Linked DNA regions of Homo sapiens: regions 1, 2, 3, 5, 6 and 7 are each reported to be linked to region 4. The links are microRNA targets in miRTarBase. Many come from high-throughput screens and were not tested one by one. Region 4 holds a microRNA gene; each other region holds the end of a gene's coding sequence. Distances are between the middles of the regions.
The links. Region 4 holds the annotated microRNA hsa-miR-215-5p (AUGACCUAUGAAUUGACAGAC, at 3,049-3,069, opposite strand). A microRNA usually pairs through its seed, bases 2 to 8, with sites in the 3' UTR of a target mRNA and lowers its output. Matches are read on the target gene's strand: a 7mer-m8 pairs with bases 2 to 8, a 7mer-A1 pairs with bases 2 to 7 and ends in A, and an 8mer does both.

Region 1 (4,065 bases), 210 Mb from region 4:
TTCACCCATGTAAATGAGGTGAAGTAGTGGCCTGTAATCAGTCCGATTGGTTGCGGAAAGCAGAGGTGGGCGGATGATGAGGTCAAGAGATGGAGACCATCCTGGCCAACATGGTAAAACCCCGTCTCTACTAAAAATACAAAAATTAGCTGGGCGTGGTGGGTGCTAATGCTAATGCATTATAATTAGTGTATGATGAGCAGTGAGGAAGACCAGAGGCCACTCTCATCACCATCTTGGTTTTGGTGGGTTTTCCTGGCTTCTTTACCACAACCTGTTTTATTAGCAAGGTCTTTGTGACCTGTGTCTTGTGCTGTCCTCCTATCTCATCCTGTGACTAAGAATGCCTTAACCTTCTGGGAATGCAGCCCAGTAAGTGTGGGGGAATCACCTGAACGCAGGAGGTGGAGGTTGCAGCAAGCCGAGATGGTGCCACTGCACTCCAGCCTGGGCAACAGAGAGAGACTCTGTCTCAAAAAAAAAAAAAGGCAATTAATTAATTAATTAGAGGTACTTACAATTTCCCATCTGCCACAGAAAAGGTAGGGGTTTGCAAAGGGGTAGCCTCTGGTCCTTTTGTTACTTAGGCTTGGAAAGTTAGGATTTTCTTTTCAATTTAGTTCTAGGAAGTCAGCCCAAAACAGCCTTAGGTTCCCTGCCTCCAGACCCTGGTCTCCTGCCTCAAACATATCCACGCACTGCAAGGGTGGTGCACCTGCAGAGGGCAAGGAAGCTCCGCAGCCCCCCACTAAACCTTGTCCCATGCATCTCCTCCATTTGGCTGTTCCTGAGTTGTATTCTTTTTTTTCCTTTTCTTATTTATTATTTTTTTTTTTGAGACGGAGTCTCGCTGTGTCGCCAGGCTGGAGTGCAGTGGCGTGATCTAGGCTCACTGCAACCTCCACCTCCTGGGTTCAAGCAATTCTCCTGCCTCAGCCTCCTGAGTAGCTGGGACTACAGGCGCCCACCACCATGTCCAGCTAATTTTTGTATTTTTAGTAGAGACGGGGTTTCACCATGTTGGCCAGGATGGTCTGGATCTCTTGACCTTCTGATCCACCCGCCTCAGCCTCCCAAAGGGCTGAGATTACAGGTGTGAGCCACCGCTCCTGGCCAGAGGAAGAAATTCTTACCAGCCAAGTTTCTGGTCTCTCTCTCTCTGTATATGTTGTGTAAACGGTAAATGCCACTATTTGTCTTCTCTGCGAGGGTCTGATTAGTAGAAAAAAAGGATTTGTCAGACCAGTCTTAGGCTGTAGCAAATCTGGTGTACTTTATGCTAAGAATTTGTCTTTCTTTGTTGTTCTGTAATGAAGAGGGGAGTATCAGGGGATAGAACGTGGGTTTAGGATGCCTATAAGCCAAGTTTTCAAGCCAGCCCATCAGGCTGGTCATTTACAAATGTTGCTATGGGTCCCTGAAACCAATGCCAAATGACATTTCTCTGCCTTGTTTTGTGTCCATAAGAGCTTAACCTTGTGGCCATGTGGGGATACTTTATCTTGGTTTCTGCCATCTAGAGGACAGGAATTTTGGGGTTCATGTCATAGTTAGCCCTAAAAATTATCTTGAGCAGGCCGGTCGCGGTGGCTCACACCTGTAATCCCAGCACTTTGGAAGGCCGAGGCGGGTGGGTCATGAGGTCAGCAGATCAAGACCATCCTGGCTAATATGGTGAAACCCTATCTCTACTAAAAATACAAAAAAATTGGCCAGGCGTGGTGGTGGGTGCCTGTAGTCCCAGCTACTCGGGAGGCTGAGGCAGGAGAATGGCGTGAACCCGGGAGGCGGAGCTTGCAGTGAGCCAAGATCACGCCACTGCACTCCAGCCTGGGCAACACAGCAAGACTCTGTCTCAAAAAAAAAAAATTATCTTGAGCAGTTAAGAGCCTTTGAAATCTTGAATTTGGCTAGACTTCTTCTGGGAATAGCAATAGAAACTGCCCAGGGCTGGGTGCGGTGGCTCATCCCTGTAATCCCAGCACTTTGGGAGGCCAAGGTGGGTGGATCACAAGGTCAAGAGATCGAGACCATCCTGGCCAACCTGGTGAAACCCATCTCTACTAAAAATACAAAAATTAGCTGGGCGTGGTGTCACACACCTGTAGTCCCAGCTACTCAGGAGGCTGAGGCAGGAGAATCACTTGAACCCAGGAGGCAGAGGTTGCAGTGATCCGAGTCTGTGCCACTGCACTCCAGCCTGGCAACAGAGTGAGACTCCGTCAAAAAAAAGAAAAAAAAAAGAAGGAAACTGCCCAATGCTGTGTAGCTCAGTAGCTAAGGCTTTGTCCTTTGACAAGGGTGATCTGGGTTGAATTCTTGGCTTCTGGAATGATTCCTTTCTGGTTTGTTATTTGTGTAACTTTGCCATTATTAAGGTTATTTTTCCCCCCATAGATAGCTTCTGATTTCCTGTCTTGGATTTTCTTTTCTCTAAGCTACCCTTGGGGAGATTCTAAATGTTGTTTAAAAAAAAAAAAAAAGAGGAACTGCTGGCCAGGCACGGTGGCTTATGCCTGTAATCCCAACACTTTGGGAGGCCAAGGTGGGTGGATCACCTGAGGTCAGGAGTTCGAGACCAGCCTGGCCAACATGGTGAAACCCCATCTCTACTAAAAATACAAAAATTAGCTGAGTGTGGTGGCACATGCCTATAATCCCAGCTACTTGGGAAGATGAGGCAGGAGAATTGCTTGAAGCCAGGAGCCAGAGGTTTCAGTGAGCCGAGATGGAGCCACTGCACTCTAGCCTGGGTGACAGAGCAGGACTCTGTCTCAAAAAAAAAGAAAAGAAAAGAAAAGAAAAGAAACAAAATCACCATCCCAGACCCCTGTCAATATCACCATCTGCCCATCCCTCAAAGTCATCTGCCCCCCACCCCCAGAGCTCTGGTGGCTGTTCAGGTTGCTTGTTTTGGCCAGCTTCCTCACTAGCCTTGAAGGCAGGACTGACAGCTTGTTCACTGGTGTGTCTCTCATGTGCCTAGAAGACTTTCAAATATTTTTTTAAATGCTGGGATTTCCTAAATCGGAAAGGAAAAACTTCAGAGTCATTTGGACAGGTTTATTGAAGCTGAGCAGTTTCCCCATAATCTAGATGACTTCAGGTTACACGCTGTGTGGCTCTCTCCAGCCACGAGTCCTCGTCGCCAAATGGGATAGATAAACGTCTGTTCAGTCTGCAATATAATTTGGCATAAAGCTGCAGCCACAAGTGGGCTCTGCTGCTGGATGTGGATCAGGCTCTCTGGAATGTCTGTTTGCACACTTGACCTTCACAGAACATTTCCTAGGGCGTAAGGAGGAAGGGAAAAAGAAGGATCAGTTTGCATGTGGTCTGTTTTTACTCTCAACACTTATTTTTTATTGTGTTTTAACCCTTTTCTGGAACATGTTTTTTTCTTTTATGAGATGGGGTCTCACTCTGTCGTCCTGGCTAAGTACAGTGGTGAGATCTCGGCTCACTGTAACCTCTGCCTCCCAGGCTCAAGCGATCCTCCCACCTCAGCCCCCAAAGTAGCTGGGACACTGCAGGCACGTGCCATCATGCCCGGCTAATTTTTGTGTTTTTTGTAGGGACAGGGTTGCCACTGCCTAGGCTGGTCTTTTTTTTTTTTTTTTTGAGATGGAGTCTCACTCTGTAGCCCAGGCTGGAGTGCAGTGGTGCAATCTTGGCTCACTGCAACCTCTGCCTTTAAGCGGAATTGCCTTCAAGCAATTCTTCTGCCTCGGCCTCCTGAGTAGCTAGGATTACAGGTGTGTGCCACCATGCTCTGCTAATTTTTGTATTTTTAGTAGCGACGGGGTTTCACCATGTTGGCCAGGCTGTTCTTGAACTCCTGACCTCATGATCTGCCCGCCTCAGCCTCCCAAAGTGCTGGGATTACAAGCATGAGCTACTGCGCCTGACCCCTAGGCTGGTCTTGAACTCCTAGCCTCAAATGATTTTCCTGCCTTGCCCTCCGAAAGTGCTAGGATTATAGTTATAAGCCACCACACCTGGCCTACTCTCAACACTTCTGACACCAAAGGTGTGGGTTTTTAAACGCCTGACACCAGTTGTGTG
Region 2 (4,065 bases), 6.1 Mb from region 4:
TGGTAATTATTTTATTATTGCTTTTATATTGTCTCATGTTGTTTCCCCAGTGAACAACTGTAAAAATCTATAAATATGTAAATCCTGTTGTCACATTTTAAATTGTGGGATCCTCTAAGAAGTAGCCTGCAGCTCTCTCAAACTCTAAGAGGCCCTAACTGCTAAATGTGTTACAGACATTATCTATTTTATCCTCACACCTACCATGTAAGACAGGGACTAATCTTCCTACTTTAAAGATCAAGAAACTGAATCTAAGTAGTGTCTCACAATTATACAGCTTATAAATGGCATGGCCAGGACTCAAACTCAGCCCACCCATTAGTCTACCACCATACAGTGCCTCCTATATTGCAGTGGTCTTGTTAGTCAGGACTAATGATAAAGTAATGTGATAGGTTTAAAAGCAATCACCAAGTCAGAATTTCTACATGCCAGTCATTACTGTCTCATCTTTCAAGGAAATCACCACGGAAGACCATACTCTTATTCTGATGACATTAATGTTGCTTAGAGCTTTTTTGAAACTCTCATTTGCCCACTCATTACACAAATATTTATTTGTTGCCCATGAACAGGCACTTTACCAGGACCTGGAAATAAATGGTGAACAAAAACAGAAACAGTCCCTCCCCTCATGGAGCAGAGGCTAGTAGGGAGACAAAAGACCTCCAAGAAATATTAATATTAAATTGCAAATGTGCCAAGTGCTGGAAGGAGAGATATATGATCTGGAGACATTGTAATAGATGTGCTGTGGTTAATGAAAGCTTCCTTGAAAAAGTGATGCTGAAGGTGAGATCTGGAAGATGATCAAGAGTTACAAGGAGAGGAGAGGGAACACACTGCATGTGCAAAGACCCTGTGAAGTAACGAGCAGATAAAGAAGTGGGGGGGGGGGGGCCAGATCATGCATGGCTTTATAGGTCTTGTAAAAGAGTTTTGAATTTGTCCTGAAAGCCAAATGAAGACTTTAAAAGCATTTATAGACAGAGGGATAACATGATCCATTCTGCATTTTAAGATGATCCCTCTGACTGCATTTGAAGAGGGCTGAGTAGATGCTGGGAGGTAAGTTAGGAGACAATTGCAGTGTTCCAGGCCAGTGATGATGGCAGCTGGGCTGCAAGTAGTGGTGATAATGAAGATGGAGAGAGGTGCATTGATTCAAAAATGCTAATGGGCAAATATTTTTGTAGATTCTCAATGGTTACGAGTGAATGTGACTTTTGGAACTAGCTTAAAGTAACTCAGAACCAAATCTATATAAATAAAAGCCATGTATGTGCTTGCATGTTTGCTCAATCTGGCTTTGATAGCTTTCTTTAGAGCTCCGAAAGTGTGTTAAGCAGTGGCATATCATTCAAATCAATGTATGGCTGACCCAACATGACTACTTGGAAATATAGATTTCTTCCTCCCAAAACAGAAATAAAATTCAACTGTATTCTCCAGCACAGTCCCTGCTGTCAACACATGAAGGCACTGAAAGATAAACAGTGCTCAATTAAATATGTGTAAAATGAGGTACTATTTAAGTGTGACAAATAAGCCTTAAGAAATGTAAGTAAGACAGGCCGGGTATGGTGGCTCACACCTGTAATCCCAGCACTTTGGGAGGCTGAGGCAGGTGGATCACTTGAGGTTGGGAGTTCGAGACCAGCCTGACCAATACGGTGAAACTCTGTTTCTACTAAAAATACAAAAATTAGCCAGGCGTGGTGGCGCGTGCCTGTAATCCCAGCTACTCAGGAGGCTGAGGTGGAAGAATCCCTTGAACCCAAGACCTGGAGGTTGTGGTGAGCTGAGATTGCATCACTGCACTCCAGCCTGGGCGACAGAGAAAAAAAAAAAGAAATGTAAAAGAAAAAATGCACAAAATACCCAATTCTAGGCAGAATATATTAAAATCAACCTTTCACTAGGTCTATACCAGGCCAAATAACTTACCTGCTTAATACCATACCACTGGATGGTATGGTAATAAATAAAATCCGTATCACTGGATGGTATGGTATGGTAATAAATAAAATCCATACCATTGGATGGTATGGTACTTCAGAGAGACTCGGTAATCTGTACTGTTTCCCCTAAAAATATAACTTAATGGAAATTACAATTCTTCAAAACTTTTTAAACAGAAGGAATGCATATTGACTTGAATTAAATGAAAATATAGAAAATAATAATTTTCATAGATCAATTTATTTAGAATTACAAATATTAAGAATAGAAGATTTATGCATTTCTTAATTAACATAACAGTTTAGCTAAATATAAACTCTGCACTAAAGTTCTGCAGTGGCACAATACCAACAAAGAATACGGAAGCCTTTTTAAACTATACAAAAATTTCAAATGGAAAATAATCTTGTTTCAGTTTTATTATACATTAACATATAAAAAGTCTCATTTTATGAGACATCTAAAGGAATTAAAACCACCTCTACAGCTATATCTTAAACTCCAAATTTGAAAAAAATTTATATTTTGAGTTTATAATATTCTATTAAAACGAAGAAAATTCCAAATACATACTTTTTACAAGATTAACATTTTAGGCAGCGTTTTCCTAAAAAAGAAAAACAACCAAAACAAGCCTTTCTTCTGCATTTCACAGCACTGGTTATTATATTTGTTTTCCTTATAAAATCTTTTTACTTTATAAATTGTGTACTGTTGGATTTTAACCAGTAATCTGGTTTAAAAGTTGTGCAAATAAACAAAAAAATATGAAAATAGTGTGTTATCATTTTTTTTTTAATAAATCTCACAACAATGCACTTTTGACCTGAACTGATGGGAAGACATGCCAAATCCATTTTTAGAAATTTAGCATTTTGCACCTTTTTTCCCCCTGTTCCTTCATTTTCTTTCAACAAACAACAAAGGTTTCTTTTATATGTTATGATAAATTAAAATATTTATTATTATAAAATGATCTACAGAACCATGTCACATTGCAAGTATATATAACATATACTTGTAAAGTCCACATTTCCCATCTATATTTCAGTGGTTTCCTTAAAACTAGGACTTCCCACACCTCATGATGTTATCTTTTGAAGACTGAGATGGTGATCAACTAAATCAAGTGGAGTTGTAATTTTCTGGATGGAATTTCCACACTGCCACCGACATGAATAAAAAGACCAGGTTTCTTCATACTCTCCATTGCAGCAGTTGTCTGCATGTGTTGCGGTGAATTCATGCACATTAAAAAAAATGGTCAATGTATTCTTCCACGAAATTATATTATGTTCAGATATTTCAGTTTAAAAATATTTGTGAATATAAACATATGTAACATAAGCAATGCTACTGCATCTGAATAATAAAAGAAAAATAAATATAATGCTGGTCAGCAATGCTGGTTTAAGAAGCAGTACAGTCTATTAAAATGCCTTATTTGGAGATTTAAATTTCCCTTGTTTTCCAGCAGTTAGGTTATTTGGTGTTGGAAGCCTATATAAAGGAAAAGAACTTCTCAAAAACAATGTCCCGTGCAGTTGGAATAATGAAATCTTTACTCAGTCTCTGTTGGTGTTATTTGCTGCAAAGGCATGTAAGTTTCCCATCTGGCTCAGGCCACTCTGAATATGTGCAACATGGATTTCTACATTATTCTGAAAGCAACTAAAGAAAGAAGAAACATGGTTAACTACTTTATTTCAAAAAATTAAGAAAAAAATTTTTAAAAGAAGACCTGAATTTTAGTTAGGAAACAGCTATGATAAATCTTAGGGAAGGAATAAATCTCCTCTAATATATTAGCCATAATTCTACTTCAGTAGTAGTTGAACAAATATGCTCTAAAGAAGCAAAGGAGCCACGGGGGGCTGGAAGGAGAAGATGAGTCTCTCACTGACTGGGGAAGCTCTACCTCTAAGCTCAACCTCCATGCTGACCCCAAACCTAAATATATGTCCTGATTTCTTTATATACAAAATCCATGTGAAATTTCTATTCTGTCCATAGGCTGGATATAAGTGAAAAGCTCTTACAAATATATTTAACGGATAATAATATATGAGTACTTCACAAATATGCATAATTCTTAAAACC
Region 3 (4,063 bases), not on the chromosome of region 4:
CAGGGCTGGTTGAGTTGGGTGGGGAGGGGGCATGATAGCAGCCTGTGACCCAATTCGTCTCCAGAGCGTGGAGGCTGCTGTGCTGTTGCCAGAGGAGCCAGTGTCCCAGCTGGGTGTGAAGTCCCCAGGGCTGTACTTTCTGACAGCTGGCGACCAAGGTGTGTTGGGCCGGGACATGGGCAGGCGGTAGGGGCTGGGGAAGGCCTGTGGACCTGAGAGTCTCAGCAGCCCTGTCCCCACCCACACAGGCACTCTGCGCGTGTGGGAGGCAGCTTCTGGGCAGTGTGTGTACACGCAGGCCCAGCCGCCGGGCCCTGGGCAGGAGCTGACCCACTGCACCCTGGCACACACCGCCGGCGTGGTCCTCACCGCCACCGCCGACCACAACCTGTTGCTCTACGAGGCTCGCTCCCTGCGGCTGCAGAAACAGGTGCACACCTGCCCTTGCTCAGTCTGGAGGCTGCGGGCACCAGCCCTCCTCTTACACAGGTCCTGGCTCACATCTCCTGCTCCCTGCCACCCCGCAGTTCGCTGGCTACAGTGAGGAGGTTTTGGATGTCCGGTTTCTTGGGCCCGAGGACTCCCACGTTGTCGTGGCCTCCAATAGCCCCTGCCTAAAAGTGTTTGAGCTGCAGACGTCAGCCTGCCAGATCCTCCACGGCCACACGGGTGAGTGGGGCCAGCCCACCTGACACCCTGGGAGCCGCCTCGGTCCCTTGCTTGCTTCCCTTCCCCCGTCTTGCTGTGTGACCTATACCTCCCCACAACATCTCAGATATCGTCCTGGCCCTGGATGTGTTCCGGAAGGGGTGGCTCTTTGCCAGCTGTGCCAAGGTGAGGCACCCTGAGAGGTAGGGGCAGGGGCACCAGGCGGGGAGGCCACGCAGTAGGCCCATGGACCAGCCTCTCTCCTCAACTCCCTGTCCCCAGGATCAGAGCGTCCGTATCTGGAGAATGAACAAGGCTGGCCAGGTGATGTGCGTGGCTCAGGGTTCCGGTCACACACACAGTGTGGGCACCGTCTGCTGCTCTAGGTAGTGAGTCGGGGCTGGGCCCAGGGGTGTCAGGGAGGTGGAGGCCCAGGCCTGCCAGCAGGGCTGCCGCTCAGGGAGCTGGGGAGGCAGTGGCAGCTTTGGCTTGCTCTGAGGCTCCAGCCCAAAGATGTGGAACAGAACAGGACAGGAGAGTCCCTAGGTGCCTCGGGGTCAGTCCTCAGAAGTAGCCCTGGTGAAGTGGTTAAAGGGGGAAGGGCATTAGGCAGAGAGAATGACCCTGCACGAGGCCCAGGTGGAGAGGTGACCCCTGCATGTAGGCACAGGGTCCTGTGGCTAGGGCTGAGCCACCCGGTGCTGCGGGTGGACAATGTAGACAGGGCTTGATCCTACAGGTGCCTGGGGGTGACCCAGGCCAACCCGCATCCTGGGACAGGCCCCGTGGTCTGGACCGTGGGCTCCCAGCCTGGCCCTGTGGGGAGCTGGCCATCAGGGCTGGCTGGGGCTCAGCTGTGTCTCCTCCTCTCCTGTTGGGTCACAGGCTGAAGGAGTCCTTCCTGGTGACAGGCAGCCAGGACTGCACTGTGAAGCTGTGGCCTCTTCCCAAAGCCTTGCTGTCCAAGAACACAGCCCCAGACAACGGCCCTATCCTCCTGCAGGCCCAGACCACTCAGCGCTGCCATGATAAGGTGACTCCATAGCCACTGGGGTGGGGGTGTGGCCAAGCCCTTGCTGGGGGAAGATGGGGGATTGCTGAGCCACCACCTTCTCCCATTGCCAGGACATCAACAGCGTGGCTATTGCCCCCAACGACAAGCTGCTGGCCACAGGCTCACAGGACCGCACGGCCAAGCTCTGGGCCCTGCCACAGTGCCAGCTGCTGGGTGTCTTCTCAGGCCACCGGCGTGGCCTCTGGTGCGTCCAGTTCTCTCCCATGGACCAGGTGCTGGCCACGGCCTCAGCTGATGGCACCATCAAGCTCTGGGCACTCCAGGACTTCAGCTGTCTCAAGGTAAGTGGCGCTCCAGACCCTCCCCACTTCCCGCCCTGGTGACATCTCATGCCCTACCCCCCACCTTGCAGACATTTGAGGGGCACGATGCTTCTGTGCTGAAGGTGGCCTTTGTGAGCCGTGGCACGCAGCTGCTGTCCAGGTGAGTGGGCTGGGGTGGGGCAGCGATGGAGTGGGGGGTGGCGGGGGGACCTGCCTGACGCTGAGCCTCTCCCCACCCCAAACCCAGCGGTTCGGATGGCCTCGTGAAGCTCTGGACCATCAAGAACAACGAGTGTGTGCGGACGCTGGATGCCCACGAGGACAAGGTCTGGGGGCTGCACTGCAGCCGGCTGGACGACCACGCCCTCACTGGGGCCAGTGACTCCCGAGTCATCCTCTGGAAGGTTGTGGGCCCCAAGGGCAGGGAAGAGTCGGGGTGGAGTGGAGGCCCCATCTGACCCTAGTCTAACCCCAGGATGTGACCGAGGCGGAGCAGGCAGAGGAGCAGGCCAGGCAAGAGGAGCAGGTGGTCAGGTAAGGCCAGGGCAGTGGCGCCCCTCCCCGCATCAGCCCTGCTCTGTGCTGTAGGGAAAACGAGGCTGAGTGCCAGGCTCCCTGCCTGCTGACTCCGATGGCTCTGCCTGCAGCCCCAGCCAGCGGCCCTCAGTGGCCTCTCCTCCCCTCCCCACAGGCAGCAAGAGCTGGACAACCTGCTGCATGAGAAGCGGTACCTGCGGGCGCTGGGCCTGGCCATCTCCCTGGATCGGCCCCACACCGTGCTGACTGTCATCCAGGGTCAGTGCCCACCCCGGGGGGCGAGGGGCTGGGTCTTCGGACCACTGGGCTCTGCTTTCCCCAGCTCAGCCTTCCCTTCTCCCACAGCCATCCGGAGGGACCCTGAGGCCTGCGAGAAGCTGGAAGCCACCATGCTCCGACTGCGGCGCGACCAGAAAGGTTGGCGGCCAGTCAGGGTGGGTGGCCCGGTGGGCAAGGGCCAGTCATGGCAGATTGGCTGGGCAAGACGATGAGGGTCCTGTTGCCCACAGAGGCCCTGCTGCGCTTCTGCGTCACGTGGAACACCAACTCGCGGCACTGCCACGAGGCCCAGGCCGTGCTGGGTGTGCTCTTGAGGCGAGAGGCCCCCGAGGAGCTGCTGGCCTACGAAGGCGTGCGGGCAGCGCTTGAGGCCCTGCTGCCCTACACTGGTATGTGGGCACAGCCTGGGGTTGGGGGATCCTGGTGGGCGTGTGGACCACCCCCCTGACCTCCCTCTGTCCAACCCCAGAGCGGCACTTTCAGCGGCTCAGCAGGACCCTCCAGGCCGCCGCTTTCTTGGACTTCCTGTGGCACAACATGAAGCTCCCTGTGCCGGCCGCCGCCCCCACCCCCTGGGAAACCCATAAAGGCGCACTGCCCTAGCCGGTCCGGCCTCTCTCCAGTCCATCCTGAACCCCTGGAAAACCCATAAAGGCCGCTCTCCTGGCCGGCTCTGTCTCTCTGGACTGCAGTCCAGCCCCCCACCCTGGCCAACACCCTACCTAGCCAGCCAGAAGGGCACTGGAGCTGATGGTCTCGGCCCTGCCACGCCCATCCCGCACCCTGGCCTGGCAGAGATCCAGCCCGCGGCTCCGCACGCTTAGACGGTGGGGGTCATGCAGAACAAGCTTTACTCAGAGGAACAGCAAATGGCCCCCTCCCATCCCTGCTGGCCAGGGAGATCCGCCCTCCCCGCTCCTCCCCAGCCCTGGGATGGCGCGGTCCATCCCCTCATCGGGATCCTCGCGCTCACTGCTCCGTCGTGGGGTGCGGCACAGAGTCCACGCACCCTCGAGGGCGGCCCTGGCGCCGTGGGCGCCGCTCCAGGGCCCTGCGTGTGACGGTGCAGCAGCGGCTCTGGATGGCGCCCGGCGAAGGTCGGGTGGGCACGGTGGGGGGAGGGGCGGTGGCCTGGGAGGGTTCAGGGAAGCCCCGGGCCTCACCCGCCGGGTCGTCTCCTCCACGGAACCCCGTCCCGCTCAGGAGAGCGCCCAGCCCTTCCGGCCGCAGCAGCACCGCGGGGAGTAGGCCCGCCCGGTCG
Region 4 (4,065 bases):
TAGATACTTAAAATTTAAGAAATTGTAGTTAAATGCACATGATTACACTGATGATTATATTCCCAGTTTTTCCCTTTTTTTTTTTTTGAGTTGGAAAGGTAATAGATGGACATAGTGAACAATTCATAGTAGAAAAGCTTGTACACTGAAAAGTAGGCTTTTTCCTACTCCAGGTATCCAGAACCTTTTTTTGAGGCAGTCATTGTTTACAGCTGTTTCTGAATCTTTCCAGAAAAAATGAATTCTTCTGTCAGCACATACATATGTTTATACAAAAGAGAGTATCTCTATCTTCTGCTCTGTGCCTAGATTTTTTTCACTTTATGTGTTATGATTTATTCCAAATCACTACACATAGATCAGCCTCATTCTTAAGCTTTATTAAAGCATACTTTACATACTATAAAATTCATGGCCAGGTGCGGTGGCTCACGCCTGTAATCCCAGCCCTTTGGGAGGCCGAGGCTGGTGTATCATGAGGTCAGGAGTTCAAGACCAGCCTGGCCAAGATGGTGAAACTCCATCTCTACCGAAAATACAAAAATTAGCCAGGCATGGTGGCGCGGGCCTGTAATCTCAGCTACTCCGAAGGCTCAGGCAGAGAACTGCTTGAACCTGGGAGGCAGAGGTTGCAGTGAGCCAAGATCGTGCCACTGGACTCCAGCCTGGGTGACAGAGTGAGACTCTATCTCAAAAAAATTAAAAAAGAAAAATTCATTTATTATAAGTGATTTATAGTAAATTTGTTAAGTTTTACAGCCACTATCATAATTGTGTCTTAGAATAATTCTTTTATCCCGAACAGCTCCCTTTTGTGCTTTTCGAAAGAGAAGTTGCTTGGAAATCTGTGAGCTTTGGAGAATGGCAACTGAATTTGAACCCAGGCTTTGCCATTCACTGTGTGTGAGACTGAGGAATTTACTTAGCCTCTGGCTCCTCTATAAAATAGGAAAAGCAATGGTTGCAGGTAGACTGTTATGAATACTAAATAATAAATGCAAACTACTTGGTGTAAAGCACAGTATTCCATAGATGATGAGCTATTCATGTATTCACTTAAGAAACATTGTTATGTGGGCACAGTGGCTCATGCCTGTAATCCCAGCACTTTGGGAGGCCAAGGCGGCAGGATTGCTTGAAGCCAGCTGTTCAAGATTACAGTGAGACCCCATCTCTACAGAAAAATTTAAAAATTAGCTGGTGTGGTAGTGTGGGCCTGTAGTCCCAGCGACTTGGGAGGCTAAGGCGAGAGGATCGCTCAAGTCCAGGAGTTTGAGGTTATAGTGAGCTATGATCATGCCAATGCACTCCAGCCTGGATGACAGAGCAAGACACTGTCTCTTCAGAACGAAACAAAACAGAACACATTGTCAAGCACTTAGTACGTGTCAGTGCTAGGAACTGCTAGTTGCTACAGTGAACAAGACTGACATGGCCCCTGTTTTTAATGAGATAATAGTCTAGCTAGTTTATCTTCTAGTAATATTAGGGAGGCTTTGAGTGTTGTTGCTGTTTTTCACAGATGTGGAGAGGGGAATGTTAATTCTTCCTTTTAGGAACACATTCCAGATTTTCATTTTCTTTGAGCAATTTTTTTTAATTTGGTGAATGGAATTTTTTCTAAATTATGCTATTAAGAAGTTTAAACTTTTAAGTAGACTTGAGGAGTAAGAGTATGTTTTAGGAAAAGAAAGTAGAGGCTAGAGACTGGAAAGTCATTGGAAAGCTATTTCAATATTATTATAAGTTGGATCTGAGGTAAGACTTTAGGAATAATCTAAATATTGTTGCTGTGGTGTTCTTACAGAGCTTGGTCAGATGTAAACTACTAATATCTTAATACTTACATTAAGAATTAATGTAAATTCTGTCCAGTTCAGATTATTTTATTTTATTTTTGATACAGTCTCACTCTGTCACCCAGGCTGGAGTGCAGTGATGTGATCTTGGCTCACTACAACCTCCACCTCCCAGGTTCAAGTGATTCTCCCTCCTCAGCCTCCTGAGTAGCTGGGACTACAGGCACGCGCCACTGACTTGGCTAATTCTTGTATTTTTAGTAGAGATGGGCTCTTGCCACGTTGACGAGGCTGGTCTCGAACTCCTGGCCACAAAGGATCCATCCACCTCTGCCTCCCAGAGTGCTGAGATTACAGGCATGAGCTACCATGCCCAGCCTCAGACTTAGTTTAAAAGAAAAAGAATTAAAGTGATTATACCTGAGACGAGTTTCCACAAACATTTGTTTAAAATTTCACACTGGAAAGTTTTTTTTTTTTTTGGAAAGTTTTATAAGCCATGTCATTGTCTCCTCTTCTTTTTTTTTTTTTTTTTTTTTTTTGAGATGGAGTTTCACTCTTGTTTCCTAGGCTGGAGTGTAGTGGCACGATCTCAGCTCACTGCAATCTCCGCCTCCCAGGTTCAAGTGATTCTCCTGCCTCAGCCTCCTGAGTAGTTGGGATTAGAGGCATGTGCCACCACGCCCGGCTAATTTTATATATATATATTTTTTAGTAGAGACGGGGTTTCTCCATGTTGGTCAGGCTGGTCTCAAACTCCCGACCTCAAGTGATCCGCCCGCCTCAGCCTCCCAAAGTGCTGGGATTACAGGCGTGAGCCACTGTGCCCGGCTACTCTTCTTTTCACTATTTAGAGAGCAAGATGTCTAGGGAATTTCACTGAAGTGATTGAGGTGGGTGGGGATTCCTTGGTGGAATAGCCCTCTGGACTCTGAGGTGGATCATATGTATGTATTAGTAAATATAGCAAACTGGTTTAATTGATACATCCTGATAATTAAATGGTACATAGGTTGACTGGTCAGTAAGTTAGGTTAAATAAATATGAGCTTTGTCAGAAAAACACAAGTTTTCATTAGGTATATTTATGTTTTATTTACTCAATACATTTACATGGTAGTGTTACAGATTATCTTCTGTGTACCTGCCATTGCGTTGGTTGCGTGGTGTTAGTCGATTTCTGATATTGAAGTAGCACAGTCATACAGAATATTGGCCTAAAGAAATGACAGACAAACTCAGCTATATTGTCTGTCAATTCATAGGTCATTTTCCTGTATACCATTTCTGAATGATGACTTTAATCCTCTTCCATTATTGGATCTTTTTGGTGTTACAAAACTTGAATTTAAGAAAATTGATATTAATTCTTAATCATTTGTTAATTTTATAAAACAGGCTGAAAATCTTTTTTTCTGCTGGAATCAAATGAGAGTCCAAGTGACCACAATTTTCTGTCTTTCTTTATTATACCTTTATATTGTAGCAAGTTGGTAACCATCAAAAGTAACAGCATCTCCACTGGAAATTGGTACACAGTCCACATGGAGTTGCTGTTACACTTGATAACACCATTAAACATATAAGGAGATTCCTTTTGCTCATCATGGGAGCTGTACGATATCTCTAAGTATACTTGTTTCACAGAAGAAAGTCTCGATTTATTCATGTTCTAAATAAGTTTAGGGACTGGTAGATTTGAAACGCTGATGTTTTATTTTGATTTGAATTAATAGTGTCATTTGCATTTTAGATCATATTTGTATTTTATCAAGAAATAATTCCATTTCTGACTTTACTGTCATTGGTCATTTTTTGAATCTGTGAGATAATGCCATTAGAATTTGGGTTGAAATCTGTTACTAGTCAATAAAAACAGAAGAAATAATTTTTAGCATAAAAAAGATAAAATGTAGAAACACTGGCTACCTGGGAAGGAAAAGAAGTTGGTTAAATTTCTTTCATCATTTCAAACAGTTATAATCACTTTCATGCTATTAATGCTATAGTTAACATAGTGAAACTTAGCCCCTAACTTCTGGAAATTATGAGAAATTTAGTAAAAATAGCCAAGGAATTTCCAATATAATTTGAGTGTTAACTTTAGCTACCTCAAATTTTTTCTCAGTTAACAATAATAAACCTTTTGTTCAAAAAATTTATGTTCATTAAATAAAGAAAAATTTCTTCAAAATGGTTTTCTGTCAGCTTTAAAACATAAATCTAGGATTAAACTAAAAATAGAATTTCCCCTTCCAAATTTCAC
Region 5 (4,065 bases), not on the chromosome of region 4:
ATGAGACTTAACAGAAGTTAAAAGCGTGTTTTTTTAATTCAGGAAGAGGATCACCTAGCCCGGGTAGAAGAGGCAATCACCCGTATGCTTGTGTGTGCCCTGAAAACTGCAGAGAATCCACAAAATACCAGAGCCTGGTTAAACCCCACTGAGGTAGGCGGCTTCTGGTCTTCATCATGGCAGTTAGTTTCCTGTGGTAAACCAGCCCTGACTAGAACATATGTTTTCCAGTGTAACTAAATGTATGTAACCATTTTAAAAGGTTTTTCTCTTCCCTTAGGTTGAGGAAACGTCCCATGCAGTCAACTGTTGCTACTTAAATGCAGCTGTTTCTGCATTTTTTGATCGCTGCAGAACATCTGAGGTAGTAGAAATCCAAGCACTGAGAACAGATGGAGAGCACATGAAAAAGGAAGAATTAAATGTGTGCAACCACATGGAGGTGGGCCAAACAGGTAGCCAGAACTTGACCACAGGAACAGACAAACCGGAGGCAGCAAGTCCCTTTGGCCCTGATCTGGTCCCTGTAGCACAGAGGTCCGAAGAACCGCCTTCAGAAAGAGGAGGCATATTTGGAAGTGATGGGAAAGACTTTGTGGACAAGGATGGAGAACACTTTGGAAAATTGCATTGTGCCAAGAGACAACAAATAATGAGCAACAGTGAAAATGCAATTGAGGAACAGATTGCCTCAAATACTACTACGACTCCTCAAACATTCATTTCTACGGATGACTTGCTGGACTGCTTGGTGAATCCACAAGTAACCAGGATAGTGGCACAACTTTTGATACAAGGAAGAAGTTTATGATTCAAGTGGAAGATGACTTTTAAAATAATATTTTTTAAATATATATTTTTAAGTAGTATGACTAAAATAAAGATGAACCAGCAAAAGGTCAGTTTGCACATTTGTAAATGTATTTATCCTTACCGAATTACATGTCAGTCTGTTGCCACCTTCTTTCATGCACATTCCTCTTTGGCCAAACTGGCTGCTCTTTGTTTGTAAGCTTTTGTTCCTCTCTCATCCCATACTTTTAGCCTGTGTCAAATGTAAGTCCCAAGTATTTCCAGCAGGAAGTAATGTCTTCCTCAGCCTCAACCAGGGACCAACCGGCTGCTTACTTTTGCAAATAAAATTTTACTAGAACACGGCCATGCCATTCATTTACATATTGTCTATGATGTCTTCAGGATTACGACGGCAGTGTTGAGTAGTGACAGAGAGTGTATGGCCCAGAAAAAATATTCAGTATCTGTTCCTTTACAGAAAAGCTTTGTCAGCCTCTGGTCTAATGGATCCAGTGGGTCTGGAGTCTAGCCTCGCTCTGAAGTGATCTCACTTGTAACAGCTGCAGAATTCTCACTGGTTATCCCCTGTCATTCAGAGTAGGATACCAATCAGGAGAAAAGTAGTTGTGGGTTCAGTATGAGGCCTCTTTAGGCAAGGAACTTGGACATCTAGGGACACCAATCCTAGGGCTAAAAAGGACTCAAACTCCCCAAACAGTGACTAAAGGCTTAGCTCAGTGAAATTGATCCCACTCTCATTACATTTGCAAGATCCAGGGATAATTAATTACCATTACTGTCTAAGAAGGAATTTAGAAATTAGAAAAGCATATTGATCTCTGAGTAACCATGCATGAAACAAATACACAACAGAAAAGATATGCAAAGTCACCTTTGAGATGAACTGATTGCTGGCTATCCTACTGTCCTCGAGGTAATGAGTATCAGTAAATCCAAAGAAAGTATGTGTTGTCACAGAGGGAAGGAGGGTATTGTTATGTAAGCATGCCAGGGAAAGAAGGGCCTGAAAAGAGCCCTTCTGTGGCTTTTATCTCCATCGGACCACTATGTATTTACCTATGAATTTCATTACTATCTCTCTCAACCAAAATGTAACTCCTTAAGGGTAGGGACTGTGATTATTGCTGTTATTTGTAGAGCCGCAATGAGTACCCAGCATGTAGTAGGTGCTTATTAAATATTTGAATGAATGAATAATAAAAATGAGACCTCATTGACAATACCTCATCAAGTACATTGGGACAGAGAATGTGGCCAAAGTAAGGTAGCTGTGATTCTTGGTATAGTCCTTTATTTATTTATTTATTTATTCATTCATTTTATTATTATTGTACTTTAAGTTTTACAGTGCATGTGCACAATGTACAGGTTTGTTACATGTGTATACATGTGCCATGTTGGTGTACTGCACCCATTAACTCATCATTTAGCATTAGGTGTATCTCCTAATGCTATCCCTCCCCCTCCCCCCACCCCACAACAGGCCCCGGTGTGTGATGTTCCCCTTCCTATGTCCATGTGTTCTCATTGTTCAATTCCCACCTATGAGTGAGAACGTGCAGTGTTTGGTTTTTTGTCCTTGCGATAGTTTGCTGAGAATGATGATTTCCAGTTTCATCCATGTCCCTACAAAGGACATGAACTCATCCTTTTTTATGGCTGCATAGTTTTCCATGGTGTATATGTGCCACATTTTCTTAATCCAGTCTATCGTTGTTGGACATTTGGGTTGGTTCCAAGTCTTTGCTATTGTGAATAGTGCCGCTATAAACATACGTGTGCATGTGTCTTTATAGCAGCATGATTTATAGTCCTTTGGGTATATACCCAGTAATAGGATGGCTGGGTCAAATGGTATTTCTAGTTCTAGATCCTTGAGGAATCGCCACACTGACTTCCACAATGGTTGAACTAATTTACAGTCCCACCAACAGTGTAAAAGTGTTCCTATTTCTCCATATCCTCTCCAGCACCTGTTGTTTCCTGATGTTTTAATGATCACCATTCTAACTGGTGTGAGATGGTATCTCATTGTTTTGATTTGCATTTCTCTGATGGCCAGTGATGATGAGCATTTTTTCATGTGTTTTTTGGCTGCATAAATGTCTTCTTTTGAGAAGTGTCTGTTCATGTCCTTTGCTCACTTTTTGATGGGGTTGTTTGTTTTTTTCTTGTAAATTTGTTTGAGTTCATTGTAGATTCCGGATATTAGCCGTTTGTCAGATGAGTAGGTTGTGAAAATTTTCTCCCATTCTGTAGGTTGCCTGTTCACTCTGATGGTAGTTTCTTTTGCTGTGCAGAAGCTCTTTAGTTTAATTAGATCCCATTTGTCAATTTTGGCTTTTGTTGCCATTGCTTTTGGTGTTTTAGACATGAAGTCCTTGCCCATGCCTACGTCCTGAATGGTATTGCCTAGGTTTTCTTCTAGGGTTTTTATGGTTTTAGGTCTAACATGTAAGTCTTTAATCCATCTTGAATTAATTTTTGTATAAGGTGTAAAGAAGGTATCCAGTTTCAGCTTTCTACATATGGCTAGCCAGTTTTCCCAGCACCATTTATTAAATAGGGAATCCTTTCCCCATTTCTTGTTTTTGTCAAGTTTGTCAAAGATCAGATAGTTGTAGATATGTGGCATTATTTCTGAGGGCTCTGTTCTGTTCCATTGATCTATATCTCTGTTTTGGTACCAGTACTATGCTGTTTTGGTTACTGTAGCCTTGTATAGTTTGAAGTCAGGTAGCGTGATGCCTCCAGCTTTGTTCTTTTGGCTTAGGATTGACTTGGCGATGCGGGCTCTTTTTTGCTTCCATATGAACTTTAAAGTAGTTTTTTCCAATTCTGTGAAGAAAGTCATTGGTAGCTTGATGGGGATGGCATTGAATCTATAAATTACCTTGGGCTGTATGGCCATTTTCATGATATTGATTCTTCCAACCGATGAGCATGGAATGTTCTTCCATTTGTTTATATCCTCTTTTATTTCATCGAGCAGTGGTTTGTAGTTCTCCTTGAAGAGGTCCTTCACATCCCTTGTAAGTTGGATTCCTAGGTATTTTATTCTCTTCGAAGCAATTGTGAATGGGAGTTCACTCATGATTTGGCTCTCTGTCTGTTATTGGTGTATAAGAATGCTTGTGATTTTTGCACATTGATTTTGTATCCTGAGACTTTGCTGAAGTTGCTTATCAGCTTAAGGAGATTTTGGGCTGAGACAGTGGGGTTTTCTAGATATACAATCATGTCATCTGC
Region 6 (4,065 bases), not on the chromosome of region 4:
AGGATCTCTGAGAGTCTGTGTGGTCCGTGGCCGCGCTGGGTTCCCCGGAGCAGCGCCCGACGTCACTGCCGAGACCTTAAGGGAAGGCGCGCGTCCAGTCCTCGCACTGCTGCGTGTTCTGGTCAGAACGGAAGTGGTAGCCTCCACTGGGAGCTTCTGTGCTTTGGGAGAATGTGTCTAAACTGTGGTCCTGTTTGTTCTCCAGTCCTGTGTGGACACCACGACCCAGTTGTAAACACAGGTCCCGTGCAGCTCGCTTTGGGGAAGAGGCGCGCCCGCCCAGGTCCTCTGTGTGTAGCTCACGCCCGGGGCTCCGTCCCGTCCTGGGTGGGTTTTCACCTGCACCGCAGGCCCCTCCCCCGGGAGCATTCGTGGAGCCGGCGTCCTCAGCCAGGAGCGCGTTGCTGGCTCAGCGGCTGGAGCTCAAGGTCGGCTCAGGGGACTGTCTCGTGCTGGAGGTTGGCGGCCGAGCAGCCTGTGTTTCCCGGAAAACGGCCCAGGGCCTGCTCCGCGCTGCTGGCCACGTCTTCGCCATCCCCTCGTTGCAGGTTCGAGGCCGAGCTCAGCCCTGTGGAGCAGAAGCTGAGTGCGCTGCGCTCCCCGCTGGCCCAGAGGCCCTTCTTCGAGGCGCCCTCACCGCTGGGCGCCGTGGACCTGTACGAGTACGCATGCGGGGACGAGGACCTGGAGCCGCTGTGACGCCGCCCGCGAGAACGCCGCCGCGGGGCCGCTCCCCACGTGCCACCACCGGGCCACCGCGGCTCGTGTAAAAACTGTTGTGGAAAATGAGTGCGTTTGTACGGAATGATAAACTTTTATTTATTCACAGAAGCGTGTTGATTGCCGCTGTGGGTTCGTGGCTGGACCTGCCCAGAGCTCTGTGCCAGGGGGACACGTAGGGCCGCGCGTGAATGGGACGGGTTCCCACACGGACACCCTCTGGCGCTTGCCGTTCCCGACCCAGCCTGGGTTCCGGGGCCTGCGTCTGTGGAAAGGGTCCGTGTGCGCACAACGGTGACCGGCGGCTCCCGGGCGCCTCAGTCCTGGACAGGAGCCTCCACCACAGGCTGTGTGAATGTTTTGTGTAAACGTACAAAACCGTTTCTGGCGATCACGCTTGTACGTTTGGAGGATTTTCAGTCACGGGCTCGGCTCCCTCAGCCACAGCGTGGCTCCGTCCAGGATTTACAAGCGTCAGTGCTGGAGGGGGACCGCAGCCACGCCAGACGCCTCGGGGTGCAGCCTGGGCCTCTCTGCGGGGCCCCTCCCCAGCCAGGGGGACCCCACCCTCGGGGCCGTTCCCTCCCGGAGCCACGGACCCAGGCCCCGTTCCACAAACGACCCCAGAAGGAAGGAGCCCGCGCCAGAGTGGGGACGTCCACAGCTGGGGGACACCTAAATGAGGGGGGTCGGAGGCCCCACCAGGAGGAGCTCCCTGTGCAGGGGAGGCCACAAGCACCCCAGGGGCACCCGACGTGGATGAGCCCAGGCCCAGCTGTGCTCCCTCTGCACGCAGGTGAGGGTCACAGGTGGTGACCATGGGAACAACCCCGTCCTCACACACGACAAAACTCTCCCCCAGGAAACGGAGGTGGCAGCGTCCACGCGGCAGGGCAGGGCCAAGCCGGGACCACCCCGAGAGCAGCATACGCACCCCGTTCATCCACCGGCAGCCGTCGCTGTGAAGGAGGCGGACGCACAGGGTGGTCCCGTGACCCCTGAGGAGAGACTGCGGGGGCTCCAGGTGGTGGGTAGACGAGGCAGCACCTCCCGGGGGAATGCTGCTGTCCCCAAGGTGTCCTCAGTGTCACCAGGTGCTCCCCTGAATTCCCGGATGCCCCCACCTGGGTCTGCGAAGGGTCAGGACCCCCAACAACAGGACAGGTGCAGGGCAGGAGGTTCTGCCGCAGGGAAATGACACTGGGAGCCACGGCCCGCAGGGCCCACCCTGCCCTCAGCTCCGGGGAGCCCGTCTGGGAGACCATGTCCGCCCCACACCACCTCCGGACACCACCCCCCAACACACACACACCTATGAGCCGGAGCCCATGGTCATGGGAGGGCTCTGACCAGCGCCCTCAGCCTCCCCACACTGACACTGGGAGCCCCCCCAATTAGGGTTCAAGGCTGAGACATGAGAGGCCTCCCTGGGGCCGTGAAAGACAGCGTCCCCCACCCACGACGCTGGTGAGGCCCCTGCACAGCCACTGAGCATCCTCCGACATCCCTGTACCCAATGCATTCCCCCAAGTGCCCCGTCCTTCCCCAGCCACAACCCCAGATGCCCCGGGCAGTGCCGGGGCCGGGCGTGCACACCGACACCTTTGCCGGAGAAGTGGGGGGGTCCTGTCGGGGGTCCTCGTGGACGGCGGCGCTGCGGGGAGACCCAGAGCCCAGCAGTCATGCCCTCCACGTGTTCTGGGGGTCCATTCCCCCGAGGGCTCACGTGTGCAGGGGGCCAGGGACCCCACAAAACAAGCACTCGGGGCACCCTGACCGTGGCCAGCGTCCCGCCAGAAGCCAGGATGTTCCAGGGCTCAGCGCCTCACCCTCTGAATGACAATCGTGGGTCCCCCGCACTTCGTGGCCGTCACCCCTTGGAGATCCCCGAGCAGGGACCCGACCCAGCCCACCCCTCCCCTCCCTCACGGGGTGCCTTCGTGTCAGAACCAAGAGTGTTCACAGGGGCAGCCCCGGGTCCACCCAGGAGCAGCAGCATGAGCTCTGTTCCGGGAGGACCATGAAAGGTGCCAGCCACAGCCCTGAGGTCCCGGGGCACCTCCTCACGGGACAAGACACAGCTGCTCAAGGCGCAGCAGGGGTGACCGCCGGCACCAGACCGGCATCCACAGCGCTGTCCTGAGGGGCGGCAGGGACAGTGATGGCAAGACGGGCTACCCAGAATAAGGGGACCCAGCCTGGTGGGGGGGACGGGGCCCGGAGAGCCATGAGACGGGGGAGACAGAGGAGATGGAGAGGGGGAGATGGGGGAGAACTGGGGGGCCTCAGATACAGGGGATGAGGCAAAGCCGGACCCAGCCATGGCCTGCAGCCCTGAGGTCCCGGGGCGCCTCCTCGTGGGACAGGACACAGCTCCTCGAGGTGGAGCCGAGGTGACGGGGAGCAGAGGTGACGGGCACCACAGGTTCCCAGCACTGGCACCAGACCGGCACCGAGAGCCCCGCCCAGAACAAGGGGGGACCCAGCCTGCGGAGGGACGGGGTCTGGACAGCCACGAGACGGAGGAGACGGAGAAGGGAGAGATGGAGGAAATGGAGACGGGCAAGACGGAGGGGAGGGAGGAGATGGAGAAAGGGGAGTTGGGGGAGAACGGGCGGGCATCAGATGCAGGAATGAGGCAGAGCCAGACCCAGCCGCGCTCAGCAGTTCCTAGAGAAGACACGGCTCCCGGGGGAGCGGGAGGCCTTTATGACTCAGAGCCGGGGAAGGAGCAGAGGCCGGAGGTCGTCCCCAGCACGGTGCCCACGGGCCGCCCTGCCCAGGCCGAGGGGTCGGACCCCACACGGCACAGAAGCCCCGTCTGCCGCAGCCCCGAGACACACATCCTGTGGCTGACAGCGGTGCGGCCCCTGGGCCGGCGCAGACCCCACGTGGCACAGACGGCCCCGCTGGGTCTCAAGCCTGCAGACAAGGCCACGCACCCGGCAAGACGCTGCTGCGTGGCTACAGCAGAGGGGCCTCGAACCACGTTCCCCATGACCCACGGGCAGACCCTGGCACAGCAGGGATCCCTGCGCCCTGGCGCCGTGTAGAAGTCACAGCTCCCCCAGCCTTGGCTGCCGCACACGCCACTCAGAGCCTGGGGAGCAGCCGTTCGGGTCTCGGTGAAACAGCGGCCCCAGGACGTGTCTGCGCAGCTCCTAGGCGGGGGCTGCCCCGGGTCTTCCGCACGGGGGCCTGGCCGTCGGCTGCAGCCTCCCCCGGCCCCGTGTCCTCACCATGGCGTAGCTGTCTCCACCCCGGTATCAGCTCCCGCAGCAGCCCCGGCCGCCACGAGTGGGTCCTGACCACAAGGAGGGGGGTCCTGACCACAAGGCGGGGGGT
Region 7 (4,065 bases), not on the chromosome of region 4:
GTCTCTACGTCCAGAAGTCGCTGTTATTATCTCTTCCCTTGCAACCCCAGGAAATAATCGGGCTCTGCTGGATTCCATGAGTGTGGCTCAGTATTTTCTACGAGGAAACCTCCTAAGTATTATTATAAATACGAAAAAACCACAGGCTTTCTTTTGGAAGAATGTGGAGCTGATAGTCACATCTGTATTTGTGCCCTGGGACATCCCAAGGCAAAATTATTATAACTCTAGAACTAATTTCATAGACAAGGGACAGCCTTGAATACAAAGCTTTCCCTGGCAATGGAGATGAAGAATAAATATGGTCCATGATCATCTGCCTTCCTCTGAAACATCTTCGTAGGCCTCAATCGAGGCAGTTGAGACCAGTCCACTCTCCTTGACAAATTCTGCCCTCCATTCTCTTCTACACCCCCTTCTCTCTCTCTCTCTCTCTCTCTCTGCCTCACACACACACATTTTTTTTTTTTTTAAGATGGAGTCTCACTCTGTTGCCCAGGCTGGAGTGCAGTGGTGCGATCTCGGCTCACTGCAACCTCCGCCTCCCGGGTTCAAGTGATTCTCCTGCCTCAGCCTCCCAAGTAGCTGGGACCACAGGCACACGCCGCCACGCCTGGCCAATTTTTGTGTTTTTAGTAGAGACAGGTTTCACTATACTGGCCAGGCTACTCTCAAACTCCTGACCTCATTATCCGCCCGCCTTGGCCTCCCAAAGTGCTGGGATTACAGATGTGAGCCACCGTGCCCCGCCACACACAAACTTTTTCTTATACCAAAGACTAGGTCTGAAACATTGAGTCCGCCTGCTCTCAAATTTCCATCATGTTTCCAGCTTAATTCAGTCCAAACTGACAAAGGGCAACCCTTCTTCCTGGTGTGTCCTGTACTGTAATTCTAATGGCCACGAAGAATTTTAGTACACTGAGTATTAATCCTCTGAAAGCAGCATGACTCCTTCACCAAGCCAATTCATTCCTTTTAACAAAACCACTTTGTCAAAGATTTATGGTTACTGATACTTTCTCTGCTACCTTTTTCTCCTTTCTTGTTCTAATATCAGTCAAAGGCTTACCTTTTGCTACACACTAGGCTTACTGCTTCTATATATTATCTTATTTAATCCTCACAATAAACCTATTAGGCAGATACTATTCTTATTTTAAAGATTGGCCAGCTAAGGCTTAGAGGGGTAAGTCCTCTGCCCAAGGAAATATAACTTCCAAATCTTGAAGCTGGGCTACACACTCAGGTGACTAGGAGCTCTGTGAACTCTCAATTACCATGCCCTGGCACTTTTGGTAAAGCATTTGAGAACAGACTTGATTCCATTGAAAGTGATTCCACAGCTTTTAGAGACATTTTATGTGTATTCATCTTTGTAAAGAGACTTCCACTTATGATGCTTTTTTTTTTTTTGAGACGGAGTCTTGCTCTGTCGCCCAGGCTGCAGTGCAGTGGCACAATCACGGCTCACTGCAAGCTCTGCCTCCAGGGTTCATGCCATTCTCCTGTCTCAGCCTCCTGAGTAGCTGGGACTACAGGCACCCGCCACCACGCCCGGCTAATTTTTTGTATTTTTAGTAGACACGGGGTTTCACCGTGTCAGCCAGGATGGTCTCGATCTCCTGACCTCGTTATCCGCCTGCCTCGGCCTCCCAAAGTGCTGGGATTACAGGCATGAGTCACCGTGCCTGGCCTGATGCTTTTATAACTATTACAACTACTTAGACCACATCGTTCTTAACATTTTGGGGGGAAGGGACCTATTTGAGAATCTTGAGTGAAACCCATGAATCCAGGCACAAAGCCCCTGATGTTACACATCTTTCTGAAGCAGAAACCCTCCCTCCATCCCGCCCACCCATGACCGTGCATGTTAGTATGAGCTGCTCATGTACTGGGTAGCAACGTGGCCCCAGGATGGAAGCAGAAGCATCTCTGGGAAGGAGGATGCTGTTTACAAAGCTCTGTCTGCCAGCATGCCCTCCCTCCGAGAAAGACTCAGCCAATCTTTCAGCTCTCATTTTGGATTCTGATTCTCAAACTGGTTTACAACATCCTAGCACTCATCCCAAAGTCGGGATTTTTTTATTTGTATATGTTTTTTATTTTTAACTTTCATTTTAAGTTCATGGGTATAAGTGCAGGTTTGTTACATAGGTAAACTTACATCATGGGGGTTCATTGTACAGATTATGTAATCACCCAGGTATTAAGCCTAGTAACCATTACTCATTTTTCCTATCCCAAAGTCTTATGAGTTGAATATAAAACAGAAAAACACCCTTTCTTCACATGCATACGTTTAATAACATGAAAGCCAAGACAGAGGTAAAAACACTAAATCAACTTGGTATCCGTTTTACTCCCTAATATTAGGGGGACAGTGAACATATAACTCAAGCAATAAAATGCCTTTGGAAACCAAGAAGGGAAGGGCCCAAGTTTGATAAGGGAAAGCCAACAATGGCTAAAACATCCATGCAACACTTCGTGAAGTCCCTTCTGCCAGCGGCTCCCGTGTGTCCATATCTTGGAGTGTGTTAGGCTACTGCTTCAAGAACAGACCGTGGACCTGGCTTCCTCACTTCCCCAAAAGAATTCCTACAGAAGGCTACAGGAAAGGCTTCTTGGTAACCTTCTTTGTTTCAAACAATGGAAAACATGAGAAATGGATAGCACCCTCTCATCCCCAAAACACCATCATCATAGCAAGGATAATGACTCAATGGAGTTTCGAATCTGTATAGTGCTTTATATGTTTTCAAATAATTTTCACGTATATGATCTTCATTAGCCCATGCAACAGCCTTGTGGTTTACAATGGAGAAAGCAGACACCAGAAGGAACTTGCTCAAGATCATGCACCCAGATAGTGGGACAAGTGGGCGAGCACCCAGACTGCACCGTCAGCCCAGCATTTCCAGCCGGCCATTAAATAGCTCTCTATCTTGTCACCCTCTCTGACTTCTTCTCCCTCTCTATGTCCAGGCTGCCTGTCAGTTCACAATGCTATCTCACTACAGATACAGATTTCAAAAGCAGAAAAACACAAACCTTCTTTGACAAGTACATATAGATATAAAAATAAATGTGGCACTCTTCTTTATTGCTTCTTTATGGATGTCTTTCCCAGATGAAAAGACCCTGCTGGGGAATAGTTCATCGACTTGTTATTTCTTTGTACACAGATTACTCCTTAGTAATAGCAGGACCTTCACACCAGGAAATTATTTGCTAAATATTTCCCACTGTCTCACAGCTTGATCTGTCAATTTCTCCCAGACGTAAAACATCTGGGCTGGTACAGCAAAACACAGAAAATTCAAAGAGATGTCCCCAAGATGCAGAAGAGGACAGCTGTCCTCAGGAGTCTGTCACGGGCCAGCTGGGGGCATTCATATTTCCCAAGACCCTTTTCCAGCTGCATCTCACCATAGCTTTTATATGACTGAAAAAATGTCCAGGAGGTTGACCAGATAGCTGCATACATCGCTGAAAAGGTGGCCATGGAGAAGCAGCAGTGGCCTCATGCTATGTGGTCATGTGATGGTTTTCGAGGCCTGCCCACAGAAAATGGGGTGGGATCCCCTTCCAGATGTTTTCAGTGAGGTGAAGGACTTCACAGGATGCCATCTTCAGCGTAGGCTCATTCTTCTCTCCTCCAGTGTAACAGACAGGCACACCCCTGAGCCTCAGCTTCAGGAAGAAGAACCTGCAGAAATCCTGCTCATACCAGTTCTGTCTTGTGAGGAGTCACTAGCCCTAAATGCTTATTTGGGGAGGTAACTGGGAGAAAAGCTCGTTCCATGCCAGCTTTAGAAAAATCTGGGAAGATACTCTGTAGCCGTGCAAACTTCTAAAAAGAAATGAAAGAAATGTGAAGTGAATAATTGGAAAAATTCAGCAGTTGTCACCTCCTTTTAAACTCTATTCACTAAGAGCTGGCTAGACAACCCATTCTGGAAGCTCTCATACTCACTGCCTCACTCGCTCCACAAGGGATTTGTACCAACCATTTCACTGGCGTCTCTAAACTTGGACCAGGAGATTCACTGATTGTGG

Region 1: the mRNA of RBP7 is a reported target of hsa-miR-215-5p. The part of its 3' UTR that is shown has no 7-base or 8-base seed match.
Region 2: miRTarBase lists LIN9 as a target of hsa-miR-215-5p. Seed matches in the 3' UTR shown: 7mer-A1 at 2,787-2,793.
Region 3: the mRNA of NOXO1 is a reported target of hsa-miR-215-5p. The part of its 3' UTR that is shown has no 7-base or 8-base seed match.
Region 5: the mRNA of HSPBAP1 is a reported target of hsa-miR-215-5p. The part of its 3' UTR that is shown has no 7-base or 8-base seed match.
Region 6: the mRNA of PPP2R3B is a reported target of hsa-miR-215-5p. The part of its 3' UTR that is shown has no 7-base or 8-base seed match.
Region 7: the mRNA of CD83 is a reported target of hsa-miR-215-5p. The part of its 3' UTR that is shown has no 7-base or 8-base seed match.

The regions. Positions count from the first base shown.
Region 1 is chr1:10,015,005-10,019,069 of GRCh38, reverse strand. It overlaps RBP7 (retinol binding protein 7), which reads right to left. Exons shown (of 4, transcript NM_052960.3): 4 at 3,049-3,288. The coding sequence ends at 3,238. Among named protein-coding and RNA genes, the nearest start is that of UBE4B, 16 kb to the left of the region's middle.
Region 2 is chr1:226,228,971-226,233,035 of GRCh38, forward strand. It overlaps LIN9 (lin-9 DREAM MuvB core complex component), which reads right to left. Exons shown (of 15, transcript NM_001366245.2): 15 at 2,187-3,636. The coding sequence ends at 3,531. Among named protein-coding and RNA genes, the nearest start is that of MIXL1, 7.3 kb to the left of the region's middle.
Region 3 is chr16:1,975,281-1,979,343 of GRCh38, forward strand. It overlaps NOXO1 (NADPH oxidase organizer 1), which reads right to left. Exons shown (of 8, transcript NM_172167.3): 8 at 3,637-4,063. The coding sequence ends at 3,772. TBL3 (transducin beta like 3) reads left to right here. Exons shown (of 22, transcript NM_006453.3): 9 at 65-158; 10 at 249-430; 11 at 528-669; 12 at 776-834; 13 at 931-1,034; 14 at 1,534-1,681; 15 at 1,774-2,004; 16 at 2,076-2,146; 17 at 2,234-2,390; 18 at 2,462-2,520; 19 at 2,678-2,781; 20 at 2,869-2,940; 21 at 3,033-3,191; 22 at 3,272-4,063. The coding sequence ends at 3,405. Among named protein-coding and RNA genes, the nearest start is that of NOXO1, 4.2 kb to the right of the region's middle. RefSeq lists enhancers at 2,732-3,311, 3,312-3,891, 3,892-4,063 and a silencer at 4,036-4,063.
Region 4 is chr1:220,114,868-220,118,932 of GRCh38, forward strand. It overlaps MIR215 (microRNA 215), which reads right to left and starts at 3,095; the gene lies at 2,986-3,095. All of the region lies in intron 12 of IARS2 (isoleucyl-tRNA synthetase 2, mitochondrial), which reads left to right. MIR194-1 (microRNA 194-1) reads right to left here and starts at 3,374; the gene lies at 3,290-3,374. It overlaps LOC124904515 (a long non-coding RNA gene), which reads right to left. Exons shown (of 2, transcript XR_007066883.1): 2 at 2,875-3,016.
Region 5 is chr3:122,737,091-122,741,155 of GRCh38, reverse strand. It overlaps HSPBAP1 (HSPB1 associated protein 1), which reads left to right. Exons shown (of 8, transcript NM_024610.6): 7 at 43-153; 8 at 281-1,157. The coding sequence ends at 811. Among named protein-coding and RNA genes, the nearest start is that of HSPBAP1, 55 kb to the left of the region's middle.
Region 6 is chrY:331,001-335,065 of GRCh38, reverse strand. It overlaps PPP2R3B (protein phosphatase 2 regulatory subunit B''beta), which reads left to right. Exons shown (of 13, transcript NM_013239.5-2): 13 at 549-1,133. The coding sequence ends at 699. Among named protein-coding and RNA genes, the nearest start is that of LINC00685, 14 kb to the right of the region's middle.
Region 7 is chr6:14,134,902-14,138,966 of GRCh38, reverse strand. CD83 (CD83 molecule) reads right to left here. Exons shown (of 5, transcript NM_004233.4): 5 at 2,061-3,859. The coding sequence ends at 3,731. Among named protein-coding and RNA genes, the nearest start is that of CD83, 19 kb to the right of the region's middle.